Linked DNA regions of Homo sapiens. The protein of the gene in region 6 purifies or fractionates together with the protein of the main gene of each other region. This does not show direct contact. Each region holds a gene or a part of one and is shown on either strand. Other genes may lie near its edges. The genes, in order: NHSL3, UBR7, DDX24, FYTTD1, PDGFRA, THOC5 and KIF1C.

Region 1 (4,435 bases), on a different chromosome or scaffold from region 6:
GGAGACAGAGCAGCCACCCTGTCACACTCTTTATTTTTTACATTTCTGGGAAGCCAAAATGTCACATTCTTATTGAGAAACCCCAAACTCCTCTGGGAAACCACTCCCCTATTGGAGGTATCCCATAGCAGAGGGAACTCCGCCCCTATTACATTGGTCCAGGCCCCAGGTAAGGACACTGAGGTGCCCTTTACCCAAGAAGAAAGTGGCTGGAAAAGCATATACTGCCCAACCCCAACTCTCTTAAGCACCTTGCTCTAGGGTCTGGGGACAATAATTTCCCCTGGGAGTATCACAGAGATGACACTGACACCAGGCCCTGAGGGCTGAATAGGAGTTCACTGGATAGCAAAGTGAAGGGGAGCACATTCCAGGCAGGAGAAGCAGCACAGGAACTGACACAGAAGGGGAAAACACATGGGAGTGTTGACTGACGGGCAAACAGACACCATCCTGACCTCAGAAGGGCAAGGCGCCCACGACCCCAGAGACTTGACTCTGACTGCTTTGGAACTATCTAGGCCCCTTCCTCAGCAGAGAGAAATGACATTGTTCATAATGGACTCTCCTTACCCACCTTCCTTTTTTTTTGAGTTTTGAATGAAACTGTTGCCCAGTTGAACTCCCGTCGCCCAGGCTGGAGTACAGTGGCGTGGTCTCAGTTCACTGCAGCCTCCGCCTCCTGGGTTCAAGTGATTCTCCTGCCTCAGCCTCCCAAGTACCTGGGACTACAGGCGCCTGCCACTACGCCTGGCTAATTTTTGTTTTTTGTTTTGAGACGGAGCTTTTTGTTCTTGTTGCCCAGGCTGAAGTGCAATGGCGTGATCACAGCTCACTGCAACCTCTGCCTCCTGGGTTCAAGCTATTCTCCTGCCTCAGCCTCCCGAGTAGCCTGGGATTACAGATGCATGCCACCATGCCCAGCTAATTTTTGCATTTTTAGTAGAGATGGGGTTTCGCCATGTTGGCCAGGCTAGTCTCAAACTCCTGACCTCAGGTGATCCCCTCCCGCCTTGGCCCCCGAAAGCACTGGGATTACAGGCGTGAGCCACTGTGTCCGGCCATAATTTTTGATTTTTGTATTTTTAGTAGAGACGGGGTTTCACCATGTTGGCCAGGCTGGTTTTGAACTCCTGACCTCAAGTGATCCACCTGTCTCAGCCTCCCAAAGTGCTGGGATTACAGGTGTGAGCCACCACGCCCAGCCACCTTACTCCCCTTCCTATGACATCCAGGCCACTGGGTCTCAGTGTCTTATCTGGCTGGCTGGAGGTCAGCTCTCCTTTCCTGGACACAGCTCCCATCTCCATGCCTAGCCCCCAGCCCCTACAGGCTTGCTCCCTCAGCCCATTCTCAAACTCACAGAATCCTAGAACTAGCAAGAGTCTCAGAGGCCATTAAACCCCATCTTTGTCGGCCAGTCGCGGTAGCTCACGCCTGTAATCCCAGCACTTTGGGATGCCAAGGCGGGCGGATCATGAGGTCAGGAGTTCGAGACCAGCCTGGCCAATATGGTGAAACCCCATCTCTACTAAAAATACAAAAATTAGCCAGGCACGGTGGCACTCACCTGTAGTCCCAGGCTGAAGCAGAAGAATCGCTTGAACCTGGGAGGCAGAGGTTGCAGTGACCTGAGATCTCGCCACTGCACGCCAGCCTGGGCGACAGAGTGAGACTCTGTCTCAAAAAACAAAACAAAACAAAAAAAAAACCATCTTTGTCAAGACAGGGCATGTCTGGTCCAAAGAGGGGCAGGACTTACCCAAGGTCATACAACAGAGCAGAACTCAAACTCAGGGTTCTCTCCACAACTCCACACCATGAAAGGACAGTCCTCCCTGAGTGGCCAGAGGGAACTTGGAGAGGCCACAGTGAACTGACTGGAGTTAACATGGGGCTAAGTCAGCTAGGCCTGGCAGGGTAGCTCTCAAATTCTCAGTATCAGAGCCATGCCTACTCCCACCCCTCAGCCGCTGCCCACTGCACAAGAGAAACCCTCAGGAGGACTACATACCCCTTTCCCCAAAACTGGTTTTGTCTAAAACTCTAGAGAGGTTACCTGCCTCCAGAGTCAGAAACACAGCCATCATCATATAATTTTCTTTGTAGAGTGTGGCCTCTGGAGGCAGACTGAGTGGCTCCGTCATTGTGATGCTGTGAACCTCACTTCCACATAGATGGGGACCTTGCCTGTCTGGTCCTCTGGCATTCACATCACCTTGAACAGTGCCTTACACTCCAGAGTAAAGAATATGTCCTCTTCAAATAAATGAAGCTGAGTGACCTCGGGCTACTTACTCTCACCCCTTTTTTCTCACCTACAAATGGTGGTAACTGTCCACCTCCCAGGTTGCTGTAAGGACATAGGAAGACTTTGATGAAAATGCCTGGCCAGGGTATATATAGCACATAGCAGCCTTCCTGTTACTTCTCTTCCCATTCAGATTAGCCAGGACCCTGCCCTCCTTCCATAGGCGCTCGCCTCCTCCAGAAAGCCTCCCCTGATTATCTGCTGGGCTCCAATCCTGGCATCTGTCCCAGAAACACTTCCTACCCACACACTTGTCTAGAGTCCAGGTGATATTTCTGGAAGATATGGATTCCTGTTTGTTTTTGTTTTTTTTAACTTGTTCTTTTTTGTTTTTTTTTTTTTTTTTGAGCTGGAGTCTCGCTCTGTCGCCCAGGCTAGAGTGCAGTGACGCGATCTCGGCTCATTGCAAGCTCCGCCTCCCGGGTTCACTCCATTCTCCTGCCTCAGCCTCCCAAGTAGCTGGGACTACAGGCGCCCGACACCACACCTGGCTAATTTTTTGTATTTTTTAGTAGAGACAGGGTTTCACCATGTTAGCCAGGATGGTCTCAATCTCCTGACCTTGTGATCCGCCCGCCTCAGCCTCCCAAAGTGCTGGGATTACAGGCGTGAGCCACCGTGCCTGGCCTGTTTTTTTAACTTTTTCTTATGTCTGAGTCCTCCTGTGGGACAAAGGTGAGACTCTATCCTCTGTGAATCCCCCTCAATAATCATCATCATCATGGGCTGTTTTCCAAACATGGATCAGGGTGAACTTAACTAATGCTCAAGTCCTCAGCAGCATAACAACAGCAGAAACCTGCTGCCAGCTGCACCATGCTCCACAGTTCACAACGCACTTGCATGTCTGTTAGCTCATTTGATCCTGGAAAGGCCCCTATAAAGCTAGGATTTATTATCCCTATTTTACAGATAAGGATACTGAGGCTTGGAGGGGTGAATAACCTGCCAGCATCTTGTAGCTTGAGAGGGGCAGACCAGGGAAGCAGAGTTGTCCATTTTTTTTTTTTTTTTTTTTTGAGACCTAGTCTCGCTCTGTCGCCCAGGCTGGAGTACAGTGGTGCAATCTCGCCTCACTGCAACCTCCACCTCCCGGGTTCAAGCGATTCTCCTGCCTCAGCCTCCTGAGTAGCTGGGATTACAGGCACGCGCCACCACGCCCAGCTAATTTTTGTATTTTTAGTAGAGACAGGGTTTCACCATGTTGGTCAGGCTGGTCTTAAACTCGCGACCTCATGACCCACCCACCTCAAACTCCCAAAGTGCTGGGATTACAGGTGTGAGCCACCACGCCCAGTCAAGCAAAGTTGTTCTTAGGCCCAGAGCCCATTCCTTCCAGACTGGGTCGTTAGAGCTCAGGTGACTAAACTTATAAACACAGGCATAGCAACCCCTTGCATTTCTATGGTTACTTCTCTTTAATATAATTTTCTTTTTTTTTTCTTTTTTTTTTTTCTGAGTCTCGCTCTGTTGCCCAGGCTGGAGTGCAGCGGTGCAATCTTGGCTAACTGCAACCTCCGCCTCCCGAGTTCAAGCAATTCTCTTGCCTCAGCCTTCCGGGTAGCTGGGACTACAGGTGCACGCCACCTTGTCTGGCAAATTTTTTGTATTTTAGTAGAGACGGGGTTTCACCGTGTTGCCCAGGCTGGTCTCGAACTCCTGAGCTCAGGCAATCTGCCCGCCTCGGTCTCCCAAAATACTAGGATTACAGGCATGAGCCACCACGCCCAGCCTTTAATATAATTTTCATATGCTCTCTTGTGAGAATCTTGGTGAGACAGAAAGGTCACAGCCCATCAAGGCAATGTCCAGCCAGAGGATTCCCCCTTTCTTCCCCACAAGACAGTGGTGGAATCAGGGAGCCCACTGAGAAGTTGCTCATCCTACATCATGGGGCTTGCTAGTAGCTGGGCCAGGATTTAAACTCTCATTGGCCTGATTCTGATACTCTCCCCACTCTATCAAGTTCCCTCACTTCTCTCTCTGGGCCATTTCCCATCTGTAAAGTGAGTTGAACAAGAAGATCTTCAAGCCTTACCTGCTGCTCTATGTCCTTGGGAGAGTCATGAAAACAGTCCCGATTTTTGAGGCAGGTGATTTGAGTTTAAATCCGTTTGGTCAAAT
Region 2 (4,435 bases), on a different chromosome or scaffold from region 6:
CAGGAGTTCGAGACCAGCCTGGCCAACATGGTGAAACCCCTTCTCTACTAAAAATAGAAGAATTAGCTAGGCATGCTGGTGCATGCCTGTAATCCCAGCTACTTGGGAGGCTGAGGCAGGAGAATTGCCTGAACCCAGGAGGCATAGGTTACAGTGAGCAGAGATTGTGCCACTGCACTCCAGCCTGGGCAACAGAGCAAGATTCCGTCTTGAAAAAACAAAAAAACCCAATGAATGAGAACTACACATAGATAGGTTCAGCATCTGTGGACAGTGAGAGAGATCACTGGAAAGGGTGTGAACAGAAAGGGAGCAGCACTTAAGAACTCTGAGGCAAACTGGCCGGGCGTGGTGGCTCATGCCTGTAATCCCAGCACTTTGGGAGACCGAGGCGGGTGGATCACTTGACATCAGGAGTTTGAGACCAGCCTGGCCAACATGGTAAAAGCCTTGTCTCTACTAAAAATACAAAAATTTGCCAGGTGTGGTGGCATGTGCCTGTAGTCCCAGCTACTCTGGAAGCCGCGTCACAAGAATCGCTTGAACCCAGGAGGCAAGGTTGAGGTGAGCCGAGATAGCACCACTGTACTCCAGCCTGGATAACACAGTGAGACTCTGTCTCAAAAAAAAAAAAAAGGCAGAAAAACAAAAGAACTCTAAGGCAAATCTAAACTGTAGGATGAGATCAGAGGTATGGCTATGCTGCTCATGGTTTGTATGGTGAACTGGTCTCTAAAGATGAGAAAGGCAAGAAATTATGAAGCCTAAGCAGCAGATACCATGAGTAACTGCCACCTTAAAAATAAAGAAATACATAAAGCATTACCAATAAGATAGTTAATGCCTCAGGACCATTCATTAATTAGTTGTTTTGATTTAATTTCTTAGTGTATAATAAAAGCACCAGATAGACTGGGCATGGTGGCTCATGCCTGTAATCCCAGCAGTCTGGGAAGCCAAGATGAGTGGATCACTTGAGCTCAGGAGTTCAAGACCAGCCTGGGCAACATGGTGAAACACTGTCTCTACAGAAAATACAAAATTAGCAGGGCATGGTAGTGTGTGCCTGTAGTCCACTTTTATAAAGGCACTAATCCCATTCACGAGGGCTCTGACTTATAAAAGAGGCCCAAGCGAGCTTGTTTGCCCCTTTTAACAGGTACGGACACGTAGAAGGATCTGTCTATGAGGAATGGGCCCTCAACCAAACACTGACTCTGCGGGCACCTGAATTTTGGACTTCCCAGTCTCCAGAACTGTGAGAAATATCTGTCTATTGTTTATAAATTACCCAGCCTAAGGTATTTTGTTTTAGCACCCCAGACAGACTAAGACACCACCTCCTCCCCAACTGATACCATGTGTTAGAATTAACAACTTATTTCAGTTCTATTTATCTTTCAAAATCCCATTCAAAAACTGCCTCCTCCATTCTCTAACTCTGGTCTCATCAATACTCTGCATCATATCATTTAAGTATAAATTTGTTTTTGGTAGTATCCCAACAAATCTATGCACCTTGTGGAGAAAGAACACATACTATTCTTTTTTTTTTTTTTTTTTTTTGAGGATGGAGTCTTGTTCTATTGCCCAGGCTGGACTGCAGTGACGTGATCTCGGCTCACTGCAACCTCTGCCTCCTGGGTTCAAGTGATTCTCCTGCCTCAGCCTCTGGAGTAGCTGGGATTACAGGCAAGCGCCGTGACGCCAGGCTAATTTTCATATTTTTAGTAGAGATGGGGTTTCGCCATGTTGGCCAGGCTGGTCTCGAACTCCTGACCTCAGGTGATCCATCTGTCTTGTTGGCCTCCCAAAGTGCTGGGATTACAGGCGTGAGCCACCATGCCTGGCCAGAACATATACTATTTTATAACCACAGAGCCCAGTTAAAAATAGTTGCTAAAAATTCTGAATTGAACATACAAATTTCACAAGCACAAGTTTGTGGCACACCAACTTCACAAAGATACCTACCTGCCAATTGTGCAGCATAAGCCCACAAAAAAGAACAACGTTTCATGCAGGCCTGGCATACCATCTCCTGAAAATCCCCACTCTCAGGGGGAATGGCACCAAGATGCTGTGAATATAGAACACCAAAAATTTTCTTGTGATTGCCAAATTGTCCAAAATGCCCATTATTTTATAAATACTGTAATAATACACTGATCATATCATTAGAATTTATTTTTAGAAGACTAATTATAATGTAAAATATAACCTTTATCTTTTTGTGACAACAATGGTTTCAAAAGGTGGAACATTTTCCTTACCCTTCCATGGAACCAGTCTTCACAGACTACGCACTGGATCATCTCATCTGGAATCTAACAGAGAAAAGCAGTTTGTTAAGGATTACATTGAATTCGGGAACATGGAAATAACCTGGCACACAGTAAAATAAGATACTAAATATTTGTTCTACATGAACTGGTGTTCCAAAGGCTTACATTGAGATAAGCACTTTACAAACAATCTCAAGGCTCTTTCACATCCATTACTTAATATCTGATTCTCACAAAACTGTGTAGACAAGGAGGGCATTCCCATTTTATACAAAACTCAGGCCCAGGCAAGTAATGTGAATGGACCAGTGCAGACAGTGACAACTGGGACTTTTTACCACACCATCCTTTAATACAATATTCAGTTGTATTACTGTATAAGGATGTTCACTCCAGCCTTCTTTATAATATTGAAAAATTAGACAATGCCTTTCTGCTGCAGAAGAACCATCCTGCCAAGTACACTGAAAAGTAAATGTTATGAAAAACCTCGATAGATAACTCCTCTAATTTGAATAAATTAAATAATTAAATGCTGGCCCTAGGAAAATAATATACCAAAGGACATAGACTATTTTGGGGATGATTTTCTTTTACTCCCAGGCTCTCATAACTGTTAATTAACATCCCAATGTTGTTCTGTCCTTTTCCTATCGTAGGCTTCTTAAAGGGAATAAAAAAGCACATATTGTGGAACAGGAGGAGCTGTAACACTTTACCACATGCCTTAAAATATCCAGTTTTGGCTGGGCGTGGTGGCTCACGCCTATAATCCCAGCACTTTGGAAGGCCAAGGTGGGTGGATCGCCTGAGGTCAGAAGTTTAAGACTAGCCTGGCCAACATGCTGAAATCCTGTCTCTACTAAAAATACACAAATTAGCCGGGCATGGTGGCGAGTGCCTGTAATCCCAGCTACTCAGGAGGCTGAGGCAGAAGAATCGCTTGGACCTGGGAGGCAGAGGTTGCAGTGAGCTGAGATCGCACTACTGTACTCCAGCCTGGGTGACAGAGCGAAACTCCGTCTTAAAAAAAAGAAAAAAAAAATCCAGTTTTAAGGTTTTATTTTTGTTAACTCAAAGAGACTTTCAATCTGTCCCTCTATATAATTTGGTTCAATAATTATAGTTCCAACGCAATTAGAAAGCAAGGAAGAAGGCAGAAGACTAATATCTCTAAAGACAAAAAGTACTCTTTCAAATCGGTAAATACCCAGACAAAACCCAAACCAATCAAAACATGGACTGAGGATATGAAAGGACAATTCAGAGAGAAGGTTATTATGGATGTCCAATGAACTTATGAAAAGATGCATAACCTCACTTATCATCAGGGAAAGAAAAAAAAATTTAAGATACTATTCTTTGGCTGGGCGCGGTGGCTCACGCCTGTAATCCCAGCACTTTGGGAGCCCGAGGCAGGCGGATCATGAGGTCAGGAGATTGAGACCATCCTGGCTAACACGGTGAAACCCTGACTCTACTAAAATTACAAAAAATTAGCTGGGCGTGGTGGCGGGCACCTGTAGTCCCAGCTACTCAGGAGGCTGAGGCAGGAGAATGGCATGAACCCGGGAGGTGGAACTTGCAGTGAGCCGAGATCGCGCCACTGCATTCCAGCCTGGGTGACAGAGCGAGACTCCGTCTGAAAAAAAAAATGAAAAAAAAGATACTATTCTTCATTTATCAGAATGGCAAAATTTTCAAGAACTGGTAATATGCAAGGTTGACAAAAGTGTTGGGGAAAAAACACTATCATATACTGTTGCTGGTACAACTTTTTTGGCAGATATGATCACAATTTTATTTTATTATTTATTATGATTATTATTTTTTGAGACAGGGTCTCGCTCTGTCACCCAGGCTGGAGTGCAGTGCCGCAATCCCAGCTTACTGCAACCTCTGCCCCATGGGTTCAAGTGATTCTTGTGTCTCAGCCTCCCGCGTAGCCAGGACTACAGGCATAAGCCACAGTGCCCAGCCAATCACAATTTTAAATGCCACAAATACACTTTGATCCGTCAATTATACCGATCCATTCTACATAAATACTTGGAGTATACTCAGTTGTATTACTGTATGAGGATGTTCACTCTAGCTTTCTTTATAATATTGAAAAATTACACAATGCCATTCTGCTGTAGAAGAACAAT
Region 3 (3,500 bases), on a different chromosome or scaffold from region 6:
AAGGTGTTAGCCACTGCAATACAACAAGAAAAACAAAAGGCATCCAAGACTGGATAATGATCATCTTTGCAGAAAATACCATGGAATCCTCAGAAAACTACTTGGTGGAACTAAGTTGCAGGACACAAGATCAATATACAAAAATCCATCATATTTCTACTTATTGGCGACAAACAATCGGAAATAAAAAATTTTAAATTACCATTTACAATAGAATCAAAAATATAAAATGCTTAAGGATAAATCTAACATAAGATGTGAAAAATCTATATACTGAAAATTTTAAAACATTGCTAAGAAAAGTTAAAGATCTAAAGAAATGGAGAGATACCATATTCATAGACTGGAAAATTAAATATTGTTAAGACGTCATCTATCCTCAATTTGCTCTGTAATCAACAGAATCCCAATCCAGATATCAGCTTACTTTTTTTGTAGAAACTGATATAACGGATTCTAAAATCCATATGGAAGGGCAAAGGCCTACAACAGTCAAAATAACTTTTAAAAAGAACAAAGTTAGAGGACTCATACTACCTGATTTTAAGACTTATTATAAAGCTATTATAACCAAGAGAATAAGAAACTGACATAAAGACTAGACAAACAGATCAATGGAAAACAAAAAGACTCCAGAGAAAGACCCACACCTATATGGTCACAGACTTTCAACAAAGATGCAAAGTCAACTCAGTGGAGAAAGAATAGTTTTTCTACAAATGGTGCTGAAATAATTAGCCATATGCAGAAAAACCCACAAACTTTGATCCATACTTCTCACTCTAAATAAAAGTTAACTCAATAAGGATCAGAGACCAAAACATAAAACCTAAGACTATTAACACTTCTAGAACAAAACACAGGAGAAATCTTTGTGATCTTGAATTAGGCAAAAGGTTCTTAGATAAAACACCAACGGCACCAAAAGCATAAATTCATAAAAGACAAGGCTAATTTGGATTTCATCAAAATAAAGACTTTCTGCTCTTTGAAAAACACTGTTAAGAGAACGAAAAGATAAGCCACAAACTGGGAGAAAAATTTGCAAATCTCACATCTGATAAAGGACATGTATCTAGAATACACAATGAACTCCCAAAACTCTACAACAGAACATCCCTATTTTAAAAATGGGCAAAATAATCAAACAGACAAATAAGCATATGCTAAAATGCTCTACATTGCTAGTCACTAGGGAAATGCAAATTCAAATGACAAGGAAATAATAGTAAAATTTTAAAAGTCTAAAATAAAATTAAAGACTGAGCATACCTAGTTATTGACAAGAATATGGACCAACTTGAACTCATACCACCTAGTGACAACGTAAAATGGTATAATCACTTTGGAAAACTCTTTAAAAGTTACATTTACCACAAGACCTAGCCATTCCACACCTAGGTATTTATCCAATAGAAATTAAAGCACATATCCATACAAAGACTGGTACAATAGTATTTACAATAACTATATTTGTAATAGCCAAAAACAAGAAAAAGCACAAATGTCCATCAATAGATGAACAAACTGCTCTACCCACACATTGGAATACTATTCATCACTAAAAAGGAATGAACTGCTAGTAATTGTAATAACATGGCGTAATCTCAAATTATGCTGAGTCAAAGACTCAGATACCACCCCCTCCAGTACATATTATATGATTTCATTATATAAAATTCTAGAAAACGCAAATTAGGCCGGGGACAGTGGCTCACACCTGTAATCCCAGCACTTTGGGAGGCCGAAGCAGGCAGGTCATGAGGGCAGGAGTTTGCGACCAGCCTGACCAACATAGTGAAACCCCGTCTCTGCTAAAAATACAAAAATTAGCCAGATGTGGTGGCAAGTGCCTGTAATCCCAGCTATTCGGGAAGCTGAGGCAGGAGAATCACTTGAACCCAGGAGGCGGAGGTTGCAGTGAGCCGAGATTGGGCCACTGCACTCCAGCCTGGGTGACAGAGCGAGACTCCGTCTCAAAAAAAAAAAAAAAAAGAAAGCAAGAAAATGCAAATTAATCTATAGTGATAGAAAGCCTATCAGTGGTTGCCTGAGGAGGAACAAGAACTGAGGGAGGGAGGGAGGGACAACAAAAAAAACCCAGGGTATCTTTTTGGGGGTAATGGATATACAGTTGACCCTTTAACACAAATTTGAAGGTAGGGGTCCACTTATACACAGAATTTCTTCCACCTCAGCCACCCTGAGACAGCAAGACCAACCCCTCCTCTTTCTACTCAGCCTACTGAAAGTCAAGATGAAGATGAACACATTTATGATGATCCACTTCCATTTAATGAATAGTAAATATATTTTCTGTTCCTTACAATTTTCTTAATAACATTTTTTCTCTAGCTTATGTTACTGTAAGAATAAAGTATATAATACAAAATATGTGCTAATAGACTGCTTATGTTATCTGTAAGGCATCCAGCCAATAATAGGCTATTAGCGTTTAAGTTTGGGGGGAGTTCAAAATTATACATGGATTTTCGACTGCACAGGGGACCAATGCCCCTAATCCCCACATTAAGGGTCTATTTATTATTGCATGGGCAGTGGTCTGTTCACAGCCCCAGATGGATGACTTATCCAAGTCGTTTTGAATTCTGGACTTGTAGATTCACAACCTGACAGGAACTGTGGTATACATCCAAATGTCAATCTCTGGCCACAACGGCTCATATAAACCTTGTTTCTGCCTTCCACGGACTTACTTCCAGGACTCTGCTGCACATACCAAAGCAGTGTAGCAGAATGCTTAACAACACACAGAACTAGCCTGGAATCCATACACTACCATTTCAGTTGTGTAATTTTAGGGAAGCTGTCTATGCTCTGTGAGGCTGAGTTTTCTCATCTGTAACATGGGAATAATGGTACTTACCCCAGGGTGGTTGTGACAACCGATTTCATCAACATAAAGCACTTAACACAGTGCATGACACATCTTAAATGCTCAGTAAATGTTCTAAGTTATTATCTCCATTCCCCTTTCCTGTAGTTCCTCACTCTTCCATCTATATGACTGCCACAGAACATCATCCTGAGTTTCCTGACCACTGTTCCAGAAACCCAAAGCACGTGTCTACTGAACACTTAAAATGTAGTTACTCTAAAATGACATGTGCTGCAAGTTTAAAACACACCAGATTTTGAAAATTTAGTAAAAAAAAAAAAAAGAACATAAAATATCTCACTAGTTTTTAACTTTTAAAAAATGTGACTCCTAGTAAATTTTAAATTACTTATGTGTTTCACATTATACAGTCACCCTTCTGTAACCGTGGGTTCTGCATCTGTGGATCGACAATATTCGGGGGGGTAAAAAAAAAAAAACTGTATCTGTACTAAACACTGTACAGACTTTTCTTGTCATTATTCCCTAAACAATACGGTGTAACAATTTACATAAGACCTATGTTGTATGAGATATTATAAGTAATCGAGAGATGATTTAAAATATACAGGAGGATGTGCCTATATAGGTTATATGTAAG
Region 4 (4,435 bases), on a different chromosome or scaffold from region 6:
TGTGGTGGTGCATGCCTATGTTCCCAGCTACTCAGGAGGCTGAGGCAGGAGAATTATTGGAGCCCAGGAGTTCGAGGCAGCAGTGAGCTATGGTGGCACCACTGCACTCTAGCCTGGGCATCAGAGTGAGACGTTATCTCTTAAAAAAATCAAGAGATGGTTGAATAGAACATAAGCTCCATAAATTGACAAAGTTTATAAAGCAATAAATTTAAAGAGAACGTAGGTCTGTATGGTCTGAAAAATAAAGACATCGAAAACATTACAGGGATTAGGAGAAGTAGCATGTATACCATCATCTCGTTTATTATTGTACACAAAAATATATATATTGGGTCAGGTGCAGTGGCTCACACCTGTAACCTTAGCATTTTGGGAGGCCAAGGCAAGAGGACTGCTTAAGTCTAGGAGTTCAAGACCAGTCTGGGCACAAACAAACAAAAAAGCCAGACATGGTGGTGGGCAACTGTCGCTGCAGCTCCTCAGGACTCGGGAGGCTGAGGCAGGAGGATCGCTTGAGCTTGGGAGGTCAAGACTGCAATAAGCCATGATCATGGCACTGCACTCCAGCCTGGGTAACAGAGCCAGACCTTGCCTCCAAAAAAAGGGTACACAGAGTATACATGCACATAATTTTTAAAACATAAAAAACACTGTTCCAACGTGGTCATTTAGGGCTGCAGAATCAGGAATCAAGAAAGCTCTTACTTTACTTTACACCATATACTGTTTCCATATTGTATCACAGGTATTACTGTCTTCCTGGTTCATCCCAACTTGGACATCATTCTCTGAGCAGAAGTCCAATACTTTCTTATGATCTCATGTAATGAGAGGTTATAATTTTTGCAAAAAGAAAGAAACAACTTACACTGGGCATTGCACTGCTCCAGGATTGTCAATAGATACAGTCAAAATCCCTCCATTTGTGGTGGAAGTCCGCCATCTAGTTTCAAAAAAAATAAAAAAAATTCATTAAATGTAAGTTGATAAACCCTATGTATATTCAAAATAAAAATGAACATTAAAAGTAGCCATTACTTTTTCTTAGCTTGTAAGAAATAAGTACCTGAACCCCACCATGATATAATAAATCAACATCTTGGGTGCGGAACTGGGCATCTGAATTAATTTATTAAATATTTTTCAGTGTAATAAATGTATACAAATTTAAAAAAATCAAATAGTACAAAAGAACTTCTAATAAAAAGCAACAGTCCCTCACCCCACTATTCTCCTGCTTTCTATTCCTACTCTCCAGAGGCAGCACTTTTAACCTGTTTTTACTGCTTTCTGGTTACTTCCAATTCACTAAACAAGATGCTTACATAGTAAAAAAAAAACCTTGCTGCAGCCGGGCACTGGCTCACACCTGTAATCCCAGCACTTTGGGAGGCAGAGGCAGGTGGATCATGAGGTCAGGAGTTCAAGACCAGCCTGGCTAAGATAGTGAAACCCCATCTCTACCAAAAAAAAAAAAAAAAAAAACAAATTTAAGCTGGGCGTGGGGTGTGGTGGTGGGTATTTGTAATCCCAGCTACTCAGGAGGCTGAGGCAGAGAACTGCTTGAACCCGGGAGGGGGAGGTTGCAGTGAACTGAGATTGTGCCACTGCGCTCCAGCCTGGGCAACAGAGCGAGACTCCATCTCAAAAAAAAAAAAAAAAAATTGCTATGATGAATAAAGATTTAGTTCGTCAAACTATCCTCCAGTTTCCTTACCCACCATGAAACATTTTGATGGCTGTATCACTATTTCCAGGCCTTTGTAACTGAAAATACTTAAATCTCTGTTTCTTTCAGCAGAATCTCTTGAACCCACCCCCAGCTTTATGTGAAAGGATAATAGTGCCTCTATTCCTTCCCTCCACCTCTGCTCCTTTGTTTGTACCTCTCACTTTCTGTCAGCTCTTCCTTTATATTCACATTAGTCAAAATCGGACATTTACATTATATTGTTCTCAAATTAACTATTTTGTGCTTTGTCTAACAGGTTGATTCTCAAAGTTCAAAACAAATAACATTTATATGATCACAATTATGTAAATATTGTTCACTGCAGAAGCAAAAAGGCTACAATTATTATTTCTTTCCCCATGGTTTCTAATGTCATGACCCCTGTGCTAAAGAATACCACCTGTATCAGTTTCACAGTTTCCTAACACTCCAATTGCTAAAAATCATGCACCACAGTTGGCACCATATCTGGGCCCTGACCATGTTTTACAGCCAGCTCTCTGTATCCACAGGTTCTACGTCCATGTATTCAATCAGTTGCAACCGCAGAATGAAAACAATCCACGGATATGGAGGGCCGATTGTAAGGGACTTGAGTATCTGAGGATTTTAATCTCTTCAGTGGGCCTGGAACCAATTCCCCTGAGACACAGAGACAATCCGCGGATATGGAGGGCCGACTGAAAGGGACTTGAGTATCTGAGGATTTTAATCTCTTCAATGGGCCTGGCAACAATTCCCTTGAGACACAGAGGGCCAAGTGTATATATTTTATTTTCCAAAAAGTAGTCATAATTTTAAATAGTTTAATCTCAAAACCTAATCACACTGATGGAATTAGTATGTTACAACTCACACTTAGGAGGTGTGATTATAACAGGATAAAATAGGTTTTCAAAAGATTTTTTATAGGGCTAAGAAAAAAAGACTGTGAAAAGGAAAACTATTGTTTTTAAAGTTGTACAAATGTTCTAAAAGCTCCACTGAATTTTATTCTATTCATTCCCTAAATAGGTTCATTTGTATGAAAGCAGTTATAGCAAAAAAAAGAAAAAGAAAAAGCTGTTTCATTAAAATGGTATAGCCAATAAAAAATAAAAATAATAAAAATGAAGTAATCTACGTGGCACTAAAACTGTTACAATATCGACACATGAAAACTCAAAAGGTTTTTGGGGAAAATTAACAAAGGACAAAACAAGATTTATTTATTTTAGCCTCAATGTTTAAAAATTTTTTTGGAGACAGTCTCCATAGCCCGAGCTATGCTGCTCAGGCTGGTGTGCACTGGCCATCGAGCTATGCTGCTCAGGATGGTATGCACTGGCGATCGAGCTATGCTGCTCAGGATGGTGTGCACTGGCCATCGAGCTATGCTGCTCAGGCTGGTGTGCACTGGCGATCGAGCTATGCTGCTCAGGCTGGTGTGCACTGGCGATCGAGCTATGCTGCTCAGGATGGTATGCACTGGCGATCGAGCTATGCTGCTCAGGATGGTGTGCACTGGTCATCGAGCTATGCTGCTCAGGCTGGTGTGCACTGGTCATCGAGCTATGCTGCTCAGGATGGTGTGCACTGGTCATCGAGCTATGCTGCTCAGGCTGGTGTGCAGTGGCAATCAAGTTATGCTGCTCAGGCTGGTGTGCAGTGGCATCGAGCTATGCTGCTCAGGCTGGTGTGCAGTGGCGATACACAGGTGACATTATGGCACTTCACAGCCTTGAACTCTTGGGCTCCATCAATTCTCTTGCTTCAGTCTCCCAACTAGCTGGGATTACAGGTGTGTAGCACCACTATGCCCAGCTTTCAGACTGAATTTTATTTTGGGTTTCAATTAATTTCTTCTGGACTGAGGTACATGATAATTTGGGTAGTTAGTATTCTGGGAGTTTTGAAATAACATCTTAAAAAACAAATGGAAACTTACTGACGAGTTCTCTTTGCTACTACATCGTCTAGCAGTTGTTCTGTATTCAACTGGGCCTGCACCTGAAGGGAAAAAAAAAGCAGTAGGTACCACAGAAAGCAGAGGATTTGAATCCAAAGAGCGATCCTGCTCTGGAACTTCCTAACCCAGTGGTGCGTGTACATGAGTGCAGCGGAGGTGCCTGCGCTATTCTACAACTTCCTAACCCAGTGGGGCGTGTGCGTGAGTGCAGCGGAGGGGCCCGCGCTATTCTAGAAATTCCTAACCCAGTGGGGCGTGTGCGTGAGTGCTGCGGAGGGGCCCGCGCTATTCTAGAACTTCCTAACCCAGTGGGGCGTGTGCGTGAGTGCAGCGGAGGGGCCCGTGCTATTCTAGAACTTCCTAACCCAGTGGGGTGTGTGCGTGAGTGCAGCAGAGGGGCCCACGCTATTCTGGCAACAGTTCCCTGTTGGAATTCCTACATGAGAACGAGTGGCAAATACAGGTTTATTCCCAAATAACGAGTTAAATTCTTATAAGACATTGCTATTGAGGGTAAGAAAAGATGGGAAATAAAAAACATACAACAGGAAGAACTAATCTACTACCACGTGCCTCACATCCTGAACCCAATGCTGCCTATGACTGAGGCTTACTAAAGGTGGCTGCTCAGGATCCTCTTTGGGAAAAAACAAACAAACAAACAAAAACACTGCCAAAGTTTTTAAATACCTTCAGGCCTCTTCTGAAAAGAAAAGTTGCCTGACGAGTATCTTTCTGATGATTTAATTTAT
Region 5 (4,435 bases), on a different chromosome or scaffold from region 6:
AATGTCTGGTTTTCTCTTGTAAGAATTGTGTGTATGATCCAGACCTTCAGTGTGTGCACTATATATTGAGAATTCCAGAAGAGATGATATGGACAAGAAAAAAAGATGACTTTACTTTTTACAGTAAAAATAAAACTTAAATTGAAGAGTACAATTGTTTAAACAATTGGAACTTACTTAGCTACTGCTTGTTGAAACAAAATCCTTTTTTTAAAAGGTATCGAAGCAAATTAAAGCTGATCCGTGCTAAGGAAGAAGACAGTGGCCATTATACTATTGTAGCTCAAAATGAAGATGCTGTGAAGAGCTATACTTTTGAACTGTTAACTCAAGGTATGTAAAGGGAGTATAAAGATAATGCTAGCTCTGTAGATGAGTGTCTTCCAAGGAAAGCCTGGCACTTTTCTCCCCGGTCATGGAAGAAAAGCAGCACTTAGGGGAGAAGCAGTGTCTGCATATGTCACATATCGGGAATACCTCTGCTGGACTCATGAATTCAGGTATTTCTGGGAGGTTCTGGGTTACTCTAGAGTAGGCGAGGAATCCCTAGGCTCCACCAGCTAGCTTTATTTTTGTAGAGATGGAGTCTTGCCATGTTGCTCAGGCTGGTCTCCTGGGTTCAAGCTATCTTCCCACCTTGGCCTCTCAAAGTACTGGGATTACAGGTGTGAGCCACTGCACCTGGCCTCCACCAGCTTACTTAGCACCTGCTTCTCAATCTGAGAAGAGAGAAGCAGATGACCTTAGATTGTTCTGGAGAGTTTTGCTACAAGTTTTCCTTATAGACATTGTACAGTGGTCCTTACCAGAAGGGAGTGCCCAAGTCTGTTTACATTCAGGCTCAGCACCTATCCAGAGTCCCAGCCATGAGCCAGGTGCTGTCTGAGGTGCGCTCATGTGATCCTCACAGTAAAACCTGTGATACAAGCAACACCGTATATCTAATTTATTTGACCACAGATTTAGAAAAGAATCTTTAAAACCTAATAACATACCACAGATGCATTTTGGTAAATGCTGCTTTAGATTATACTTTAGCTGAATCCATTAGTTGAATCCTAAGCTATAATATAATTTTAAGAACCTCCTTGCCTTTCAAGCCAAATAACCAAGGGACTTTCTCTCTCTCTTTCCCTCCCTCCCTTCCTTCCTTCCTTCCTTCTTCTCTCCCTCCCTTGTTATCTCTTTTCCTTTCCTTTCTCTCCTTCCTTCCCTCTTCCCTTTTTCCTTTCTCTCCTTCCTTCCTTCCTTGCTTCCTTCTTCCCTCCCTCCTTTGTTCTCTCTTTTCCTTTCCTTTCTCTTTTTCTTTCCTTCCTTCCTTCCTCACTCACTCTTTTCTTTTCCTTTCTCTCCTTCCTTCCTTCCTTCCTCCCTCCCTCACTCTCTCTTTTCTTTGCCTTTCTCTCCTTCCTTCCTTCCTTTTCCTCCCTCCCTCCCTCCCTTGTTCTCCCTTTTCCTTCCTTCCTTCTTTCCTTTCTTCCTTCCTTCCCTCTTCCCTCACTCTCTCTTTTCCTTTCTCTCCTTCCTTCCTTCCTTCATTCTCCCCTCCCCTCCCCCCTCCCCTCCCCCTCCCCTCCCCCCTCCCCCCCTCCCCTCCCCTTCCCTTCCCTTCCCATTTTTCTTCTCACCATGTTGCCCAGGCTTGCCTCAAACTCCTGGGCTCAAGTGTTTCTCTTCCACCTCAGCCTCCCAAGTAGCTGGGGCTACATGTGTGAGGCATCACAACCATGGACTTTTCACTTTCTTCACTCCAGGTTAAAAACATCACAGGGATAAATCTCAAAACACCAAAACTGTGAAAATGCTGCTAACCATGTGGGTCTGTCTAAACTGGAGTGTTACTTGTACAACTGGTTTCAGCCCCTCCGGAGTGTTTTGAATGCCATGTAGATGAGTTGTGAACTCATATTCCACTTTGTAGTCTCATATGTTCTGGGACACGAGCTATTCCATTCTGACTTCTTTCTGCCTCTTGCAGTTCCTTCATCCATTCTGGACTTGGTCGATGATCACCATGGCTCAACTGGGGGACAGACGGTGAGGTGCACAGCTGAAGGCACGCCGCTTCCTGATATTGAGTGGATGATATGCAAAGATATTAAGAAGTATGGAAAACAGATGTGTCTTCTTCTTTCGTGGTCAGAATATTTCTCCCTTGACACAAATGATGTCAAATACATTTTACTTATTGACTATAAGATAGGGTTTTGGGTGTGATAGCTTCAGGGTGTGTATCTTTTGTCATGAATAGCTGTGAGAAGAAGGTCCAGGGCTCTCATTAGACCTTCAAAATGTCTCCAATCTAAAAACAAGAGTGAATTTTAAGAACCACTGTTCTAAGAAGATTTTTACTACCCTGGCTCACATATCTTATTTGGTGAACTTTGTTTGGTAGTCGGACTGCATGTAAACATAAATGTGACTGCTTAGTCCCTTATCTGCCCACCTGCTGTTTGGTGGGTTAATTCGCCATTCCCTCCTCCCTCCCCCGAGTCCTCAGCCTTCTTAAATGGGCACATGAGCAATGTGTTTACACTTCATCCATGGTAACTGGTTGTGTTCAGAAGCCTCAGTTGTTTCTTCCTCTAGACAGAGACTCCTCATCTTAACTTCTAGGGCTAAGAACAGACTTGGATGTTGACTGGGGTTTCTAGTAGATTCCAGTGTGGAGCAGGATTCTAGGTCTTATAACTCAATCTGAGGATCATCGCAACCCTAGTGACACCCTAGGGGCTCTTCCCAGTGTGAGTGTTGAGAAGGGAGGGCTCCAGGCCTTTTTGAAGGGGTGGGAGATTGAGATCATTAAATATGGTTGAAGTTGAACTGTTCAGTTTGCTCATAGGTTCAAGATTGGGGAATGGTAGTCATATTTTATTAAACTTGATTATCTCTGCCTGCTATGTAAACACTTAGCTTTCAGTTGTTCATGTGTGAGTTATTCCCTCTTCAGCACATGCAGACAAGTTTTAATGTTCATCTGCATGTAAAATAAATCAGTGTGTATTGCCCCGAAATGCAGACAAGGTCCCAACTCCTTGCCATCTTAGAGTGTTCCCGTGGCTCCACTCATTGCCATGACTCTCAGGAATTGGCCCTATACTTAGGCCCTTTTTCTCTCTAGATGTAATAATGAAACTTCCTGGACTATTTTGGCCAACAATGTCTCAAACATCATCACGGAGATCCACTCCCGAGACAGGAGTACCGTGGAGGGCCGTGTGACTTTCGCCAAAGTGGAGGAGACCATCGCCGTGCGATGCCTGGCTAAGAATCTCCTTGGAGCTGAGAACCGAGAGCTGAAGCTGGTGGCTCCCAGTGAGTTCCTCAACAGTCAGGACAACTCATCAGCTGAGCCGCATCTGCCCCAGGCGGAACTTTGAATCCCAGATAGGGGTTATATAGAAATGAAGGTCCCAAGGCAGAAATTCAGTTATGAATGCTCTTAAAGTCATGTGGGACTTTGTTTTATTTTGTTTTGTTTTTTGAGACAGAGTTTTGCTCTGTGGCCCAGGCTGGAGTGCAATGGCACAATATTGGCTCACTGCAACCTCTACCTAGGACGTTGTTTTAGATTCAGATCCAAAACTGCATTTTTGCAGAGGCCCCTCAACATTTTGCTTGTCTAATAATATAGCTACAGTCTCTACTTTGAATGTCTGTGTATGTGGATGGAGTGTGGGGAAGGATCTTCTGTCTCATTGCTCCTTAAAAGATAGATGAAGCCAAAAGCAATATAAGCAAAATGCAACTTACAAAATAAGCTTTATAATAAAGCATATGAAGTAGAGGTGTCTGCCCATATAGTAGCTGTCAATTGCATTTATCCTATTCAAATTCTGTCCACAAGGTTACTGTTGGAGCAACTTTGGAGAAAATACTGAGTTCTCCTGATTGAATTTTGTCCCCTTCTTGTATAAGGAAAGAGTTGATGTAGTTTCCTGGGTGTAGATGGTTTGAGAGATGGTACTGCCTATCCCTAAAATGAACCAGGCAGCCCTCACACTTCCCCACCAGCAGTGAGAGATTCCTGGCTCAGACACAGCCACACTACCTTGCTGCCCCTGTGCATGTCTGCCAGGAAACTTTTCATTGTGCCTCTCTCTCTTGTCACGTAGCCCTGCGTTCTGAACTCACGGTGGCTGCTGCAGTCCTGGTGCTGTTGGTGATTGTGATCATCTCACTTATTGTCCTGGTTGTCATTTGGAAACAGGTAGATATTTTCTCATAAAACTAAAGATCTTTGAAGCCAATGAGAACAAGCATAGCAACCTAGTTCAGTGCTTGGCACAGAGAAGGAGCTCAGCAATTACATGTGGAGTGAACGTTGTTGGACTCTACTGTGTCCAGTCACTGTGCTGCTTCAGTGAAGCTCTGGTGCACTGGGACTTTGGTAATTCACCAGTTACCTGTCCTGGTCATTTATAGAAACCGAGGT
Region 6 (3,500 bases):
GTGCTGGGATTACAGGCGTGAGCCACCACGCCCGGCCACTAAGGTTTTTTTAATCCCTTACTTTTTATCAAAATTTTATAACAAAGATTTGACTGGTTGAGAAGTTTTTTTGTTTTGGTGTTATATTTTTATGACTATAAATAGCCTTTCCTTTTATGTTCATCATTTTTACCAAGTTCAGTTGTCTTAGCCATATGTTGCAGATATAAATTTTGCCAAGAAGGTGATTCCTTCATCAGGTTTTGTCAATTAATAACCTTCATCGTGGGCAGTTTTAGTTCTGTTTTATTTATTTACTAATAGATTGAATCAATCTATTAGTAATAGTCCCTAAACACTTGCTAAAAGACTGAAAAGTTTTATTTTATTTTATTTTATTTTATTTTATTTATTTTTTTGAGACAGAGTCTCGCTCTGTCACCCAGGCTAGAGTGCAGTGGTGCAATCTTGGCTTATTGCCAGCTCCGTCTCCCGGGTTCACACCATTCTCCTGCCTCAGCCTCCCAAGTAGCTGGGACTATAGGCGCCCGCCACCATGCCCAGCTAATTTTTTTTTTTTTTTTGTATTTTTAGCAGAGACGGGGTTTCACCGTGTTAGCCAGGATGGTCTCGATCTCCTGACCTCATGATCCGCCCGTCTCGGCCTCTCAAAGTGCTGGGATTACAGGCGTGAGCCACTGTGCCTGGCCTGAAATGTTTTATTTGTTTGGTAGTCAGTTCTCCATTTGAGGTGGTGAAGGGGGCAAAGACCTTGGGGAACAGGGATACTCAGTGAGACACAGTAGGGAAGAGCTGGAAGCCTCCACTGTCCTAGCATGGAGTTCCTGAAGGCATGCTGGGGCCAAAACGCAGGACCGGCACGTGCTGCCCAAGTTGCTCCTGACGTTATCCATGGAAAGATGAAGGAGAACCCCCTTTGGTTCAGGGAAAGAATGGGCCTTGTCATCCTTTGTGATAAAATTACTACATTACCCTCCCACATTATCTCTTTTTTGCTTGTCACATTTAATGACAAACTGTGCCCGAACCATCCCAGGTGGGTGGCAGTGGCGTCACTATTTCTCTCCGCTTGTAGCTGTGGGTCTCCAGTGTATGTGATTGTATCTTTTTCTGGGAACATACAGGGGGCCTTTTCCTGTGATGAGCATAAGATTTGGTCAAAGTGAGATAGACATAGCACCAAAGCTATACACTTGTTCTCTCTGTAGCAGAAAGGAGTCTGTTCTGCTTTTATGAAAATTGAAATTATTTCTACTGATGGTGTCATGGGACTTTGCTCCCCTGAGGTAAGGCCTTAGGCACCATATAAATCTTGAAGGGATGAGTTTTTTAAAAATTAATGATTAAGAGTACTAGTCTGTTTGATCAGACAATATAAAGCCACCTCTAGCACTTACTAGCAGTGTGATCTTGAATAAGCCATATCTTTTAAAGCCTTGAGTTTTTCCTCTATAAAATGGAAATGATAATCCTCCCTCATAGGGTTGTAAGGATGCAATGACCTCAAGCATATAAACGGTCTGGCCCACAGAAAGCCTTCAATAAATGGTGGCATTGGTCATCAGTGAGACGTGGCATTACCATCCCCAAATGCCCAAGCCTATGTTGAAGAAAGATGTTGGCTGCATTCTCACTGCTTACTGTTTTTCCTTTTCTAGTGACTTGCTGTCTCCTGACTCAGTCCTGAGTTGCTTGTATCCTGGGGATCATGGAAAGAAAACTCCGAATCCAGCCAATCAGTATCAGTTTGATAAAGTTGGGTGAGTCAGCAGTTTCCTCCTCTCCGAGCTCTCTACTTCTGAGTTTCTCTGGTGGCTCAAGCTAAATGCTGGAGACCTGTTAGGGCCAGAGGTGACCCAGAGGATAGGAAAGACCACAGGGTAGAAGGAAATGTTTGTTCTTTCTTGCTTACAAGGCAAAGGGAGATCACAAAAAGGGTGGAAGGATCAAAACTCGGAAACATGCTGGGTGTGGTGGCTCACGCCTGTAATCCCAGCACTTTGGAAGGCCAAAGCAGGTGGATTCCTTGAGCTCAGGAGTTCGATACCAGCCTGGGCAACATGGCAAAACCCTGTCTCTACAAGAAATACAAAAATTAGCCAGGCATGGTGGTGGGCATTTGTAGTCCCAGCTACTGGGGAGGTTGAGGTGGGAGAATTGCATGAGCCCAGGAGGTTGAGGCTGCAGTGAGCCATGGTCATGTCGCTGTACTCCAGCCTGGGGGCAACAGAGCCAGACCCTGTCTCAAAACAAAAACAAAAAGAAAAACAAAAAAAACCCTCTGGAAGCATAATAATACGTGATACAATAAAAATGTTTGACATTTTAATTATCCGAGGATTAATTTTTAAAAGATTTTCTAAATTGGTAGACCAATAAAGACATTAGTACACTGCCTTTGTATTTGATATTTGCTTATAAGTTGAAGGCTGCAAGAAGAAAAGGAAAAAGAGGAAAGTGAATGTGAGAGAGATGAAATTCACAGTAGGGAACTGACAAAGTTGAAGGGCTTTGCCAGCAGCCTGGCTGTGAACATGGCCAAACCTGCAGGACTGGATGGTTTGTGGGGCATGGGAGGGTGGGAGGAGGCTGTATCCTGGGACCACAGCAGAAATGACTTACAGCACAATTTTATTTATCTTCTTTTCTGCAGCATCCTGACTTTGAGCGACTATGTACTTGAGCTAGGTCACCCCTATTTGTGGGTGCAGAAGCTGGGTGGCCTCCACTTCCCCAAAGAGCAGCCCCAGGTCTGTACACTGATCTCATCTAGTTGGCTGAGGAGCTTACCTCTTCTCTTCCTGTATAGACTCTAGAAAGGCCAGGCCAGGTGCGGTGGCTCATGCCTATAATCCTTGTACTTTGGGAGGCTGAGGCAGGTGGATCACCTGAGGTCAGGAGTTTGAGACCAGCCTGGCCAACATGATGAAACCCCATCTCTACTAAAAATACAAAAAATTAGCTGGGTGTGGTGGCACGTTCCTATAATCCCAGCTATTCAGGAGGCTGAGGCAGGAGAATCACTTGAACCAGGGAGGCAGAGGTTGCGGTGAGCTGAGATCATGCCACTGCACTCCAGCCTGGGCAACAAGAGCAAAACTCCGTCTCAAAAAAAAAAAAAAAGGCCTGTCATGGCCTTTGGAGTTTTGAACTGGCAGAATGTGTCCCCTCAGGGCTGTGACCTGTCTTCTATCCACTCAGGACACTAAAATGTCTTAGACTTACAAGAGTTTACGTACCTTTTGCATTTTCTCTGAGCCTAGTAGCCTTTTAGACCCAGGCAACTTGAGTCCTTGCTCTGGGACTCATGTCTGCAGGCTCTGCTGCCCTTGTTCTTGTGTGCAAGTACCAAATATGAGGCATGAGCAGAAATCCAGGGGGCCTGGCCCCTTAGCAGAAGCCTGCCTTTCCTCAGGAGTTGGACACAGCTTCTCAAGAACGCAGCATATTGTGTTGTTTCTGCCAGGACTCAGCGTCTGGCCTGTCATAGCAGATAAACC
Region 7 (4,435 bases), on a different chromosome or scaffold from region 6:
TAGCCAGGCATGGTGGCACATGCTTGTAATCCCGGCTACTCGGGAGGCTGAGGCAGGAGAATTGCTTGAACCCGGGAGGTTGAGGCTGCAGTGAGCCCAGATCGCGCCATTGCACTCCAGCCTGGGCGACAAGAGCGAACACTCCGTCTCAAAAAAAAAAGAAAAAGAAAAAGAAAAAGAAAAAGAAATCTCGGCAGTCATAGCTGGATAGAGGCAGGTTTTCCACAGGGACAAGTTCCGATATTCAAATACAGGTTTTTGTTTAAAAAGGATCAGAGTGCTAGTTGTGGTGAACAAGATCAAGAAGGGCAGGATCTTCTCTTCAGCAAAATCCCACACTCTGGCTCACTAGTGTCCCATTTCTACCTTAGAACCCTCGCCAGTGCCTGACCACACAGTAGTCTGTCTTCTCAGGGTGGGTGCAGAGGGCTGGGCCTGTGGTATTCCTCCATTCATACCCATGAGCCCCAAGCCCCTCTGAGGACAAGGCCACATCCCCTCTTTATATGGCTGCACTCCCTGGTGCCCAACCCAGACCTCTGAGTTCAGTGTGTGGGGTGGAACATGGGGCCTCTCTCCCTGTCTGGCCTCTCTCACCCCCTCAGCCATTACCTTCTCCATCTGGCTGGGGGATGCTCCGGAACAGACAGTGTTGCTCCCGAATGAACTGTCCGGTCAGCTTGATGTCCATATCTACTTGGCCGACCCTGGGGAAGCAATGGCCAACGTTTGTGAGCATGTGCCAGACTTTAACCAAGCCCCTCCTGAACACCAGTTTATCCAACTCAATGAACCAAGCCAATTATTCCCATTTCACAGATGAGGAAGCAGAGGCTCAGGGAGGTGAAATGGCTTGCCCGGGTTCATTCAGTGGGCAGTGAAGTGATGCTGGGATCTGAGCCCAGGTCTGCCTGACTCTGAAGCCATGCTCTTAGTCACCATGTTATACAGCAGGCTCGCCAACTTCTCTTGAAGCTGGGAGAGCATGCAGGGCTGTGGAGGCAGCTGTTTAGAGATCTGAGTTATCTCCAGGGACCACCAGGGAAGGGAGGCACCAATGTGGCTAACCCTCAGCAGCCATACCCCAAAAGCAGAGGCTGCCCCCCGGGCCACTGGGTACATGCTACCTGGGTACAAGCAAACCTGGGAGAAACGGGCACCCTCAGCCACAGGCCTCCACCCATCCTTAGGTTGATGATCCTGAGAGCTCACTCCCTACCCAAGATGACTACCAAGGACAGCCACGAATGCCTGTGGTGGGAGGGGAAGGGCACCCTCACCCCTTTAGGGGAGGCACCGAGCCCCCATGACTTCATAATACCAGCCCAAGGAGCCACATGCCCTTAGCTGCCCAGCCCTCAACCGCACAGACCAGGCCGTGTTTCCCTTCTCCCGCCCCCAGGGAAGGCCCCACCAAGGGAGGCCAAGGCAATGGCATCAGGGTCTAAGAATGAGGGGGTCTATGTTTCCCAACTCTCCTGCCCCAGTAAACAAGGTTGTCTCGCCCTAACCAAACTGGCAGGTGGAGGCAAGACAGCCACTGAGCAGGCACGCTTCTCTTGAAGCTGGGAGAGCGTGCAGGGCTGTGGAGGCAGCTGTTTAGAGATCTGAGGTATCTCCAGGGACCACCAGGGAAGGGAGACACCAATGTGGACAACCCTTGGCAGCCACACCCCAAAAGCAGAGGCTGCCCCCCAGGCCGCTGGGTACACGCTACCTGGTGACGCCATCTTTGATGTGGTAGAGCAGACACTCAGACATCAGAGGGTCTTCGTTCAGGTTCACCAGGTGGGGAGTCTAAGCGGGGAGAGAAAGGTGGTCAGGGGGAGCCAGCCAGGGGTGCTATAGAAAGGAAGAAAGGGAGCGGTGGGAGGAGACACCCCTCCAGTCCTGGCACTGCCAGCTGCGCCCCCTCACTCTGGAGAGCTCTCCTGCCCTCTGTACTCCTCCCATCGTCATCCCTCCACCCCGATGACGTTCTTTGGTTCCCACCTCTCACACCAACCGCCTTCAGGACAGCCTGATCCACCCTCTCCTCACACAAGGGGCCGACAAAAATTGCCCCACCCATCCAGCTGCATCCAGGTCAGCAACCCTTCCCAAGGCCTGTCTCTTCAGAAGCACCTCGACCCACCAGGCTCCCTCACCAGAAGCCCCGGACCCCCTGCATTCTCTTCTTCCCTATATTCCTCTGTCTCAGGTCCCATCATTTCTTTCCTCAAAATGTACCTTGCAGCTTCTGGAGAGTTGGGGGAGACTGAGTGAGCAGACTGGTACTCCCCACCTTTCATCAACCTTGAATTTCCTACACACATGAATTACTTTCACAATTTAAAAATAAAAAGTGTCACTTCAACTTAAAAGCAAATGGAACAAACATGTTTCTCGAAGCAGACTCATTGACTCTTCCCCAGTGACTACCCCTCCCTGGGCTGCTTCACCTCAAGCCTGGGTCCCTGCAGCACCCGCCTGGGGCTGTCCCTGCCTAAGGCCCCCAGCCAAGTCCATCCTGAACACCTGAGTGATTGTTACGCTGCTCTGTGCTGAAAACCCGGCCCATTCCCTTCTCCCACAGCACCTTCTCCTGACTTGTTTCCATTATAACAGCCCTGCCCTTGCTGGGCAGTACTCTGGATGGCGTACAGGCGACGCTGCCTCTGTACCCCCATTCATGCCACTGCTGCCACGCCTGGGGAAGTCTCCCTTCCTGCCAGCTGCTGCCGTGCCACACACCTCTCCATCCCTCGGCACCACCCTGCACCAGGCCCACCTGCCTTCCTGCCACCCCTTAGGTCTCCCAGCTTCCTGCCCACACCTCGCTATGGCCATGTCTTTGCCTCTCTGCTGAGACCTCTCCAGCTGGAACCCCAGGCCCGCTGGACTTGAGCCTACTTTTTCCCCTGGCATCCCTGGGCCTCCTCCATGTCCCGGCTCCAGTCCATCTGTCCAAGCCCCCCTCCCAGGCTCTCTCCCAGACTCTGTACTTCCACTCAGCGGACCCCTGAGCACTCCCTCCAAAGTAGGCCTCCTGCATCCCTGACTGCCAATGTCCCCAACAACAGACCGCCTCCCGCCCCGCCCCCACCTGCCAAAATCATTCACTTCCTTCACGTTCCTCCCAGTCTGTCTGAAATGCAACTTCCTCCGGGAAGTTTTCCTAAGCCTTCCATCAGAACACAAGACCCCTGCCTCTGCTGCAGAAGGACTGACTGTGGCCTTTCTACCTCACCCTGGTGAAGCGCTAGGCGGGGTACAGAGATGAGTCAAGCCCAGGCACTGCTGTCCAGTCAGTCAGGAAATGAGAGTCAGCTAGGGGAGGTGAGGCTTGGCGTGGAAACACCATTACAAGTGGGAAACGGATGCCTCATGGAGGAGTTTCTGATTGTCTCATGCCCTTGTTTAAGTTCGTTTATTCATTCATTTGTTCCCAGGGGGTTGAGTGCCACTGTGTTCTGGGAGGGACTCACATGCAAAGAGGAACAAAGTGAAGAACTATGGGATTTCAAGGGGATCAGGAGGACTTAATGGAAGGGTAACATGGGAGCCAGCCTTTGAGGACAAGGAGGGCGTGGACATGCACAAGAGCGCTCCGGGTGAAAGCAGCCTGGACAGAAGCATGGAGGCAGAAAGCACAGGGTACAGAAGGGAAACAGCACGGAGTCGAACCTCTATTTCTCTGGGAGCCACTTAACACTCAGAGCCCAAAGCTGTGTCCCCCAGAGGTGTCTGTGTATCTTGTGCATCCGCCCTTCACCCAAGTGCTCCAAGGATCACTCCTGCGACACTTCTCCTGAGGGACTCCCATGCCCCTCCCTACACTGCAGTGTCAGGCCTGCTCTGGGACTGGCAAACGCTGATGGGCTCCGGAAGCAGAAAGCAATCTATCCCTGGGGAGAGGGAACACGATTTGAGGCGGTGCTTTTCAACTTTTTCTTCAGCCCTATAACTCTTTGTTCAAAATGAAACCTTCTCTAGAAGCCTAGGACATCAAGCAGATAAGCAAGAAGCTGCTCAGGCCCAGGCTGGGGGTGAGAGCCCCAGGGTCTGGTCCTGTCCCTATCCTCAGCCCCTGAGAAGGCAGCTCAGAACCAGGTTTGAACACCACTGATTTAAGCAATCCTTAGCCCTGGTGGTGGGGGTCTTAGCAAGAGGAGGCTCCCTCCAAGACAAACTGTAGTTTTTTCCTCTAAGACCCAACTATTCCCTGTTGGAGCTACTCACACCAAACCCATTTCCCCATGAGTCTAACAGTTCTCTCTTCTGGCTTTAGACCACATGGCTTTTAAACATGAGAAGAGTTCATCCTCACCACCTTGAGAAAAATGTAAAAGTGAACTACCTTAAGACACCTTCTCACCAATCACACAGGCAAAGAGAAAAGTCTTACTAAGCCAGAATGTGGGAAAGGGCGAGGGGAAATGGGCTCTCTTGTATG

Evidence for each region.
Region 1: the proteins of THOC5 (region 6) and NHSL3 purify together in Homo sapiens (affinity purification with mass spectrometry; one large-scale study listed by BioGRID and IntAct). This does not show direct contact.
Region 2: the proteins of THOC5 (region 6) and UBR7 fractionate together in Homo sapiens (co-fractionation; one large-scale study listed by BioGRID). This does not show direct contact.
Region 3: the proteins of THOC5 (region 6) and DDX24 purify together in Homo sapiens (affinity purification with mass spectrometry, with the first as the bait; one large-scale study listed by BioGRID). This does not show direct contact.
Region 4: the proteins of THOC5 (region 6) and FYTTD1 purify together in Homo sapiens (affinity purification with mass spectrometry; one large-scale study listed by BioGRID and IntAct). This does not show direct contact.
Region 5: the proteins of THOC5 (region 6) and PDGFRA purify together in Homo sapiens (affinity purification with mass spectrometry; one large-scale study listed by BioGRID and IntAct). This does not show direct contact.
Region 7: the proteins of THOC5 (region 6) and KIF1C purify together in Homo sapiens (affinity purification with mass spectrometry; one large-scale study listed by BioGRID and IntAct). This does not show direct contact.

The regions. Positions count from the first base shown.
Region 1 is NC_000001.11:32,744,453-32,748,887, reverse strand, and holds part of NHSL3 (NHS-like protein 3), read right to left. Parts: intron 1-4,435. UniProt on the Homo sapiens protein: Able to directly activate the TNF-NFkappaB signaling pathway.
Region 2 is NC_000014.9:93,212,821-93,217,255, reverse strand, and holds part of UBR7 (putative E3 ubiquitin-protein ligase UBR7), read right to left. Parts: intron 2,328-4,435; coding exon 2,274-2,327; intron 2,081-2,273; coding exon 1,975-2,080; intron 1-1,974. UniProt on the Homo sapiens protein: E3 ubiquitin-protein ligase which is a component of the N-end rule pathway. Recognizes and binds to proteins bearing specific N-terminal residues that are destabilizing according to the N-end rule, leading to their ubiquitination and subsequent degradation.
Region 3 is NC_000014.9:94,074,703-94,078,202, forward strand, and holds part of DDX24 (ATP-dependent RNA helicase DDX24), read right to left. Parts: intron 1-3,500. UniProt on the Homo sapiens protein: ATP-dependent RNA helicase that plays a role in various aspects of RNA metabolism including pre-mRNA splicing and is thereby involved in different biological processes such as cell cycle regulation or innate immunity.
Region 4 is NC_000003.12:197,773,438-197,777,872, reverse strand, and holds part of FYTTD1 (UAP56-interacting factor), read right to left. Parts: coding exon 4,374-4,435; intron 3,725-4,373; coding exon 3,663-3,724; intron 947-3,662; coding exon 872-946; intron 1-871. UniProt on the Homo sapiens protein: Required for mRNA export from the nucleus to the cytoplasm. Acts as an adapter that uses the DDX39B/UAP56-NFX1 pathway to ensure efficient mRNA export and delivering to the nuclear pore.
Region 5 is NC_000004.12:54,270,416-54,274,850, forward strand, and holds part of PDGFRA (platelet-derived growth factor receptor alpha isoform 1 precursor), read left to right. Parts: intron 1-217; coding exon 218-333; intron 334-1,978; coding exon 1,979-2,105; intron 2,106-3,121; coding exon 3,122-3,315; intron 3,316-4,115; coding exon 4,116-4,210; intron 4,211-4,425; coding exon 4,426-4,435. UniProt on the Homo sapiens protein: Tyrosine-protein kinase that acts as a cell-surface receptor for PDGFA, PDGFB and PDGFC and plays an essential role in the regulation of embryonic development, cell proliferation, survival and chemotaxis.
Region 6 is NC_000022.11:29,519,258-29,522,757, reverse strand, and holds part of THOC5 (THO complex subunit 5), read left to right. Parts: intron 1-1,658; coding exon 1,659-1,760; intron 1,761-2,653; coding exon 2,654-2,750; intron 2,751-3,500. UniProt on the Homo sapiens protein: Component of the THO subcomplex of the TREX complex which is thought to couple mRNA transcription, processing and nuclear export, and which specifically associates with spliced mRNA and not with unspliced pre-mRNA.
Region 7 is NC_000017.11:5,011,015-5,015,449, reverse strand, and holds part of KIF1C (kinesin-like protein KIF1C), read right to left. Parts: intron 1,798-4,435; coding exon 1,718-1,797; intron 708-1,717; coding exon 613-707; intron 1-612. UniProt on the Homo sapiens protein: Motor required for the retrograde transport of Golgi vesicles to the endoplasmic reticulum. Has a microtubule plus end-directed motility.